Linked DNA regions of Homo sapiens. The protein of the gene in region 1 purifies or fractionates together with the protein of each later gene. This does not show direct contact. Each region holds a gene or a part of one and is shown on either strand. Other genes may lie near its edges. The genes, in order: TMEM65 and COX15.

Region 1 (3,824 bases):
CCAATCTCAAGTATTTTATCAATTCTAAGTTGCCATCATTTATTGGATACATCCTTACTTTATGAACTGTAAGAAAGAAAAAATATTGCTAATTAAACTATGTATACTACCAACAATAAGATGGATCCTGATATCAGATACGTTAAAATGCATCTGAGAATGCCTAAAATGTGGTATTTGTTATTGAATGATACCCCCCAAAAGAGAGAAGAGAAATAGTTTTTAAATACAAAGACTTCCAGAAAAATCTTCATCTCTAAACAAAAACAATTGTTTTATGATGCAATATATAGCTAAATGGCTTTAAAATCTCTTAGATCATTTGGTTCTATTAAATATATCAGAAAGCTATACAATGACTGTAATATTCTCATTATTTACTTTAATGTTGGAAACTGGGAATAGAATGTTTAAGAGATGATATCATGATACATTTATGCCAGGAATTCGAAGAATATAAAATTCTTGCCATGGTCCTAAAACAAAGAAACTTTGTTTTTAACTGTGGCTTTGGCCCCAAACTCCAGTGCAGAAGTCTAATATAAAAGGTTAAGGTTAGATCACTTAAAAAGCTGCTTTGCCTAGATTATAGGGCTAAGTAAACTTCTAAGAAAAAATTCAAATCTGAAATTGTAACACTCAAATGAGTCAAGGAAAGAAGAGACAAAATCAAAGACAGAGCAAGACAGAGCATATTTATCATAATAATGTCCACTTAGTCTAATTTATACTCCCCCAGGCTTCCCCAAGCTCAGGAAGCAACTCAGGCCATCTGCTACTTGGAACAAGAATGTAAAGAGAGAGAGAAAGCTGGCCTTTTCTAAATAGATGTCCTTAGTTTGTTTCATTATTCCTGCCACATAAAGTAAAGAGAGCAAAAAACAGCCAAACCCATATATGCTTTGGCCATTATTTCCTTTGAAAGTTCCCCCCTCTAGAAAACATGTCTAGTCAGTATCCTCAAATTCGAGCCATATCCCTTCTCTTTGGGTTTTCTGGGAGTAGGGTGAGGTGGAATAATGAGAGAGGTTCTTCCTTTTACTCCTGTCTTACCCTTGGAGATGTCTATAAAATACATATAAATACTTCAGTAAACACAAATTCCATTTTGCTTACATTATGGTAAATTTAGAATAAACTTTTGCATACATCAGAACCACTCATGAAAATTACTAAACACAACTGCCAGGGCTCCCTCTCCAGAGACACTAATAATGTATAACTGGGATATCACCCAGGCATCTATATTTGATGGATACCAAAGATTTAGTACTATTAGTTTAGAAAAAGTAAATTTGAAATTTTAATTCTAGAAAACAAAGAAAAATGAAATATTCTTTTGTTATGCTTCTCAATTAAAGAAGAGTGGGGAACAGAAAGACAGCAAGTACAGAATATACAAATGAATAAGTGAATGAACCTACCCAAGTCCAGCTAGATCTGACACAAGATTTCCCAAAGCAGCAGCTAAAAATTTGAAAAATAAATAATTGTTACATAAAAGAATAATAATTATATCACTATGTAATCAATAAAGCACTGATCTTGGAAGAGTTCTCATATTTCTCAAACAACAGCAACCATATCCAAAGTAACTCATTGGACAGCTCTTACTCTCAAGGTTTTGAAATAGAACACAATTTTGAAATTATGCTATTCTACCTCCATTAAGTAGTAGGTTTTTTTGTTATGGCAGCCAATTTCCATTTTGGTTTCAATATTAATTGTAGAATATTTTGTAGTATCTTTCATATAATATTTAAAGGAATTGGTAAAGTTGCATGTACAGCTATGAAATTCAAGAAAGTCAAGGAGAAAAATATGTTTCTTTCATTAACTCATTTACCTAATGCTTTCTACAATAAATACAACATAGAACTCTTCCCAAATTTTACCTCTGTGAAGAATAGAGTGGTAAATGGGACAGAGAAGACAGATGTTTAATCCTGTATTTCCTTCTTTGATTTTTCTACCCAACTCAAGAAAAAAAAAATTCTACCCAACTCAAAAATAAATAAATAAAAAATAAATAATAGGCTGGGCGTGGTGGCTCACATCTGTAATCCTAGCACTTTGGGAGGCCGAGGCGGGCAGATCACGAGGTCAGGCATTCAAGACCATCCTGGCCAACATGGTGAAACCCCGTCTCTACTAAAAATACAAAAATTAGCCAGGAATGATGGCAGGCGCCAGTAGTCCCAGCTACTCATGAGGCTGAGATAGGAGAATCCCTTGAACCTGGAGGTGGAGGTTGCAGTGAGCTGAGATTGCACCACTGAACTGCAGCCTGGGTGACAGAGTGAGACCCCGTCTCTAAATAAATAAATAAATAAATAAATAAATAAAAGAGACCAAGGGTAGAAATGTTTAGGGGTAACACTGAATTGCCAGAAAATCTTGTCTTAACGAAATCAATATAGCAGAGTATTGTTATCCAATAACTAATAATATAAAGTACCTAAAATTTTCAGAAAAAGTGCTACATGTACAAAACTAAGAATCAGAAGAATAGGATGAAGAAAATTAACAGATATCTCAATGAGTAAACTCATTCAAATAAATTACCCTCCTCTAAACTTAATCTACTGAAATGTTTTATAAGTGTACAATGAAATAATAACATTTACTACTGTTAAATACCTGCCATAGTTGAAATTCCCAAAATAATTCCAATAGACATTTCAATATGGGTTCCCTGAAATATGATAAAAAATTAATCTTAAAAATTAAAGCTGAAGTGACTATAAAAGAATAGCAAAGCATTAATAAAAACAGATACAAGTTAAATCAACATGTTAGTGCTGCAAAATTACATACATCATATATGCACATATAATATAGTAATTCATTAAATTATTAAATATATGCATTCATACAGAAATAACATCAATAACATTTTATTCATTCAAATTAGGCTTCTAAAAATAAAATTAGCAACACATGTAGAAATATAGTTCATCATTAAAAATCTAGAATTTCTATTTTTCTACCACAGAGAAAAATGCTTTAAAGCTCTTTGAAAACAAGACCGACTCACATTGATTTTAAATTCTGAACTATACATCTATACTATTGTTATTTACTCTATCAAAAGATTAAAAGGAGACTAAACCAGTTTCTAGGGAAATTGGGGTTTATAAAATTATCCTTATAACACTTAGCTCTTGAACCATTAAGTAGTGAAACTATACATTCAATTTATAAGCAGCAACGGCATTTAGTACAATAGATCTACACTCAAAACAAAGCCCCATCGTATCGCCACTGAATTTAATGACAGAGTTTAAGACTTTCTATATGTATATCATCATTCCTCTGAAGAAAAGAGGGGCTCATATTTTACTTTCATTTTAAAGAGGAGGAACTGAAGTGAAGACAATTAAACTATTCTAACAGAATAAAGAAGAAATCCTAGGATCTATTGTGCTAATTCAATTCTAATCCCTGAGCAATGCTGCCATTAGAAGACTTAATTTTCAAGAGTTCTCTTGAATACTGATGCTTGAACATTTCTAAAAAATGCTTCAAATCTCAATGATATTTGTGGAGGGAAAAAAACGCCCTGTATTTTACGTAGAAATAATGCATTACTCATCAATTATTTACAAAACTGAAAAGAGGTTTCCTCAAGTTTCTTTCCCCTAGAGCTTTTGGCTGCATCACTTTAAGATATAATTCTTGTCGAATATGGACCCAACAGTCTGATGCACTGAAGTTCAAAAGTCTTTTGTCCTGATGCACAAAGTTCAAATGACAAGGTTGTAAATATACCCCAAGAAACAGATTTCTGAAGAAGAAATAAAGAGGAAGAAAAGGTAAAAACA
Region 2 (3,824 bases), on another chromosome or scaffold:
TCACTAGCCCACTTTCTTCTCCCATACCTTATCTGACATCTTTAATTTCTGCCTCCCTAATAGTGTTTTCAGTGTTGGCTTGTTTTTCTAATTCTAAAATGTTAACTTTCATTTTGTTCTACATGCCTTTCTCTGGTTACTATTAGACTTTGATTATTGTTTCTGCTGCCTCTATTTCTTCTCTCTCATCTCCCTCCTTAATCCCTTCTTTCTTTATTTATTTTTTTTGAGCCAGAGTCTTGCTCTGTTGCCCAGGCTGGAGTGCAGTGGTGCAACCTCTCAGCTCGCTGCAACCTCCGCCTCCCCGGTTCAATCAATTCTTCTGCCTCAGCCTCCGAAATAGCTGGGACTACAGGCCCACGCCAGCATGCCCAGCTAATTTTGGTATTTTAGGTAGAGACAGGGTTTTACCATGTTGGCCAGGCTGGTCTGGAACTCCTGATCCCCCACCTTGGCTTCCGAAAGTGTTGGGATTACAGGTGTGAGCCACTGCACCCGGCCTTAATCCCTTCTAACTGACTCATTTTCTTACCACTTCTGAGTTAAATTAACCAATTAGCTTCCTCCTGATTAAATTTTGATGTTTCTTTGATGCCCTGATAATCTCCTTTAGGATCTCTAAACCTTGACCCAAATACTCCTATGTGTCTTCTCTTTTAATTTGTTGCTCAGTTTCACCCAACTTTTTTTTTTTCATCATTCTAGCAGTACTAACCTGTTAACTGTGGGAGTCTTTCCTTAAGAGGCGCTCAACTTACGTGATTTTAATTGCCATTTATATCTGAATATCTCTCAGCTACATGGGTATTCTACAATCCTTCATCCCACAAAGTGTTTCTCTCTTTTGGAATTTTCCTGTATGCTTCTGTGGCATTCTAGCACAGGGATCCCTCTTTCCTATAGCAGACAAGTTAGAAAAAGAGGAGAGACAAGAACCTAGGGAGACACCCATGATGGGAAACAAACTACATCTTGCAGCACATGAAAATATACTACTGAGTGCTTTACTGATTCCAGGCACTAAGCTAAGTACTTTAAATATGGATTATCTCATTTAATATTTACACGACTGTACATGGTGGCACTGTTATTATCCCCATTTACAGGTAAAGAAATCATAGCTTTCAGAGGTTAGGTAATTTACCCTAAGTGTCAGAGCTGGGGCTTGAAGCTAGGCCTGTGACACTAAAATGCATGCTCTTACCTATTCTATTAAAGTGCCTCAGAGATTATTTCCTTAAAAAGAATGCCAACTAGGGGCCGGGCGCAGTGGCTCACACCTGTAATCCCAGCACTTTGGGAGGCCAAGGCAGGCAGATCACGAGGTCAGGAGATCGAGACCATCCTGGCTAACATGGTGAAACCCCGTCTCTACTAAAAATACAAAAAATTAGCCAGGCATAGTGGCAGGTGCCTGCAGTCCCAGCTACCGAGAGGCTGAGGCAGGAGAATGGTATGAACCTGGGAGGCGGAGCTTGCAGTGAGCCGAGATCACGCGCCACTGCACTCCAGCCTGGGCGACACAGCGAGACTCCGTCTCAAAAAAAAAAAAAAAAAAACAATGCCAACTAGGAAGCTCCTGGGAGCATTTCTGGTTTCTCAACCTTGAATAAATCTTACCTGGAAGCAGACGAGGCCACAGAGGGCAAGAACACGTCCTTTCATGCCACGGCTGAGCCAGCCCTTTCTCCAAAAGTAGGCAGCAGGCAGGATGTACACAAGGCCTACAAGGCGACCCCACATTCGGTGTGAGTACTCCATGTACCAGATGAACTTGAATTCTGTCAGTGTCATATCATGATTCAAGCTGGGTGAAATGGAAAGTCAAAAAAGGAGGAGGAGGAAACATCCTTCTGATTTTTATTTTCTTACGGAATGCAAAACCTTTCTTTCTCAGTCCTGCAACTTGGTAGGTCTGCCCTCTTCCTCATCAACGACCTCAGGATGACTTTGGATTTGGGGGCTTAGAAGACAAGCTGACTAAACATAACTGAACCGAAGTTCATGAAATAATCTAACCATTCTGAAGGGTTTAAGTCCAAAAGATCAAATGGGCCTACTGGGATGTTTACCTAATTTTCTCTAATACTTACATTTTAAATTCTGGAAATTGCTGGTATCTTTGGAATTCTGCTTCCCATTCCTCTTGGCTTGTAGGTGGCTTCATCTCCTTTATTAAATGCCAATCTACCATCGAGAGGCCAGACTCTGTCAACCTTAGGATAGGAAAGAAATTTTGGGGTGTATGCGTGAGGCTGGATTACTCACAAAAGGTTTATAGCAACAAGTGGATCTGAACTTAACCTTGTTAAAGGTAAACACATTGTTTCCTTGTTTCCTCTTTTGAGACATTTCTCTGTTACTGCTTGGAATTTTGTCAGAAACAGCTGCCATCAGGTACAAATTTATTTACCCTTATATTCTCTCAATCCTTTTATTCAACTCTCCCCAATTCTTTTTTTTTTCCCAATTCTTCCTTTCACTAGCATTCCTCAACAGGTAAAATCAACCCCTACAGCCAAAGAAATGTGTTCTAAATGCATAACCAACATTCCTTACCCAGGGAAAAGAGACCTGTTACATGTATACAGGTTTAGATTCTTGGGTGAATTTAAAGACAATAAAATTCAAATTTGTTTCACTTGCTCATAACAACCTATATAACACATAAGGTATTTTGAAATAAGGGACGTGGAATGTGAAGAGAATTTGAGGAAGACACATTTGATTAAAACTAGAAACTTTTTTACCAAAAGGAATTAGGATTCCTAGAGTAAAAGCCTGATTTTAGGCCTGAGGCAAGAAATGCACAAGATGAGCTCGGAACATCTTGTCATACTAGAAAGTAAGGAAACTATCAAAGGTAATTAGGGCCCTGCCAAAAAGTCACTAGAGCCAATTTCAGGAGATGCCCACTGACTAAAGATGGGACAATCTGAGCAAATCACTAACACCATCATCACAACGGACCGAAACATTATCGAGTGTGTTTGAACCTATGATCTCATAATGAGCCTTAAAAATTCAAATCCTTTATTTGTTGCCTTTGGAGGATTTGGGGGACCAATTTATTATTTTGAAAATTGGTAAATAAAGGGAAAGAAGAATCAAGTATGTATCCTGCCTTTCCTATACAAACTATACCTTGGGATATCCAAACTGATGATGAGGGAAAGCTTTTTAGAGTTGAGCTAATAAAATATTATAATTTTGCTACGCTAATGAAATAATGGATCTAGGCAATGGTAATTAATGGCTGTTAACATCTATAATAGACACCAGATATTCACGAATGTTCTATTCACCTACTGAAGTATTTTGCTCCCTCATCCCTAATTTGAATCTGATCAACCAACTACTCATTCACAGGAAATAGACGGGACAAAGGAACATGTTAAATATCACACAGTTATGCAGTCAGCAAAATCTAAACTGTGCATAACCATAGGACAAATGACTAGAGTTTCCTCAGCAACTAGAAGAGGGGGAAAGGGAGGAGTGTCTAAATCTATAGTCTCTTGATAGATTTAAACAAACCTAAGAAACATGAACCAATTGTGATGTACAGAACTTCTTTGGGTTTAATTCAAACAAACTGTAAAAAAAGTTTTGAGACAAACTTGGACTCTGATTGAAAGAGAAAAGATACATAAACAATGCACAGGTACCAGTTAAGACATAAACCAGTCTTTATAGAAGGCTCCTACTAATAAAACACTCAACTGTTCTATGGCAGGGCAAGCCATCAGACATGTTCCTTCTTTAAGGCCTCGGTTTCTCCATCTATACAATGAGGGAGCTAGACTAGATGCTCTGTAAAATTC

The links.
Region 2: the proteins of TMEM65 (region 1) and COX15 fractionate together in Homo sapiens (co-fractionation; one large-scale study listed by IntAct). This does not show direct contact.

Annotation. Positions count from the first base shown.
Region 1 is NC_000008.11:124,320,681-124,324,504, forward strand, and holds part of TMEM65 (transmembrane protein 65), read right to left. Parts: intron 2,696-3,824; coding exon 2,641-2,695; intron 1,468-2,640; coding exon 1,425-1,467; intron 1-1,424. UniProt on the Homo sapiens protein: Essential for maintaining proper cardiac intercalated disk (ICD) structure and function as well as cardiac conduction velocity in the heart.
Region 2 is NC_000010.11:99,725,348-99,729,171, forward strand, and holds part of COX15 (heme A synthase COX15), read right to left. Parts: intron 2,217-3,824; coding exon 2,094-2,216; intron 1,808-2,093; coding exon 1,621-1,807; intron 1-1,620. UniProt on the Homo sapiens protein: Catalyzes the second reaction in the biosynthesis of heme A, a prosthetic group of mitochondrial cytochrome c oxidase (CcO). Heme A is synthesized from heme B by two sequential enzymatic reactions catalyzed by heme O synthase (HOS) and heme A synthase (HAS).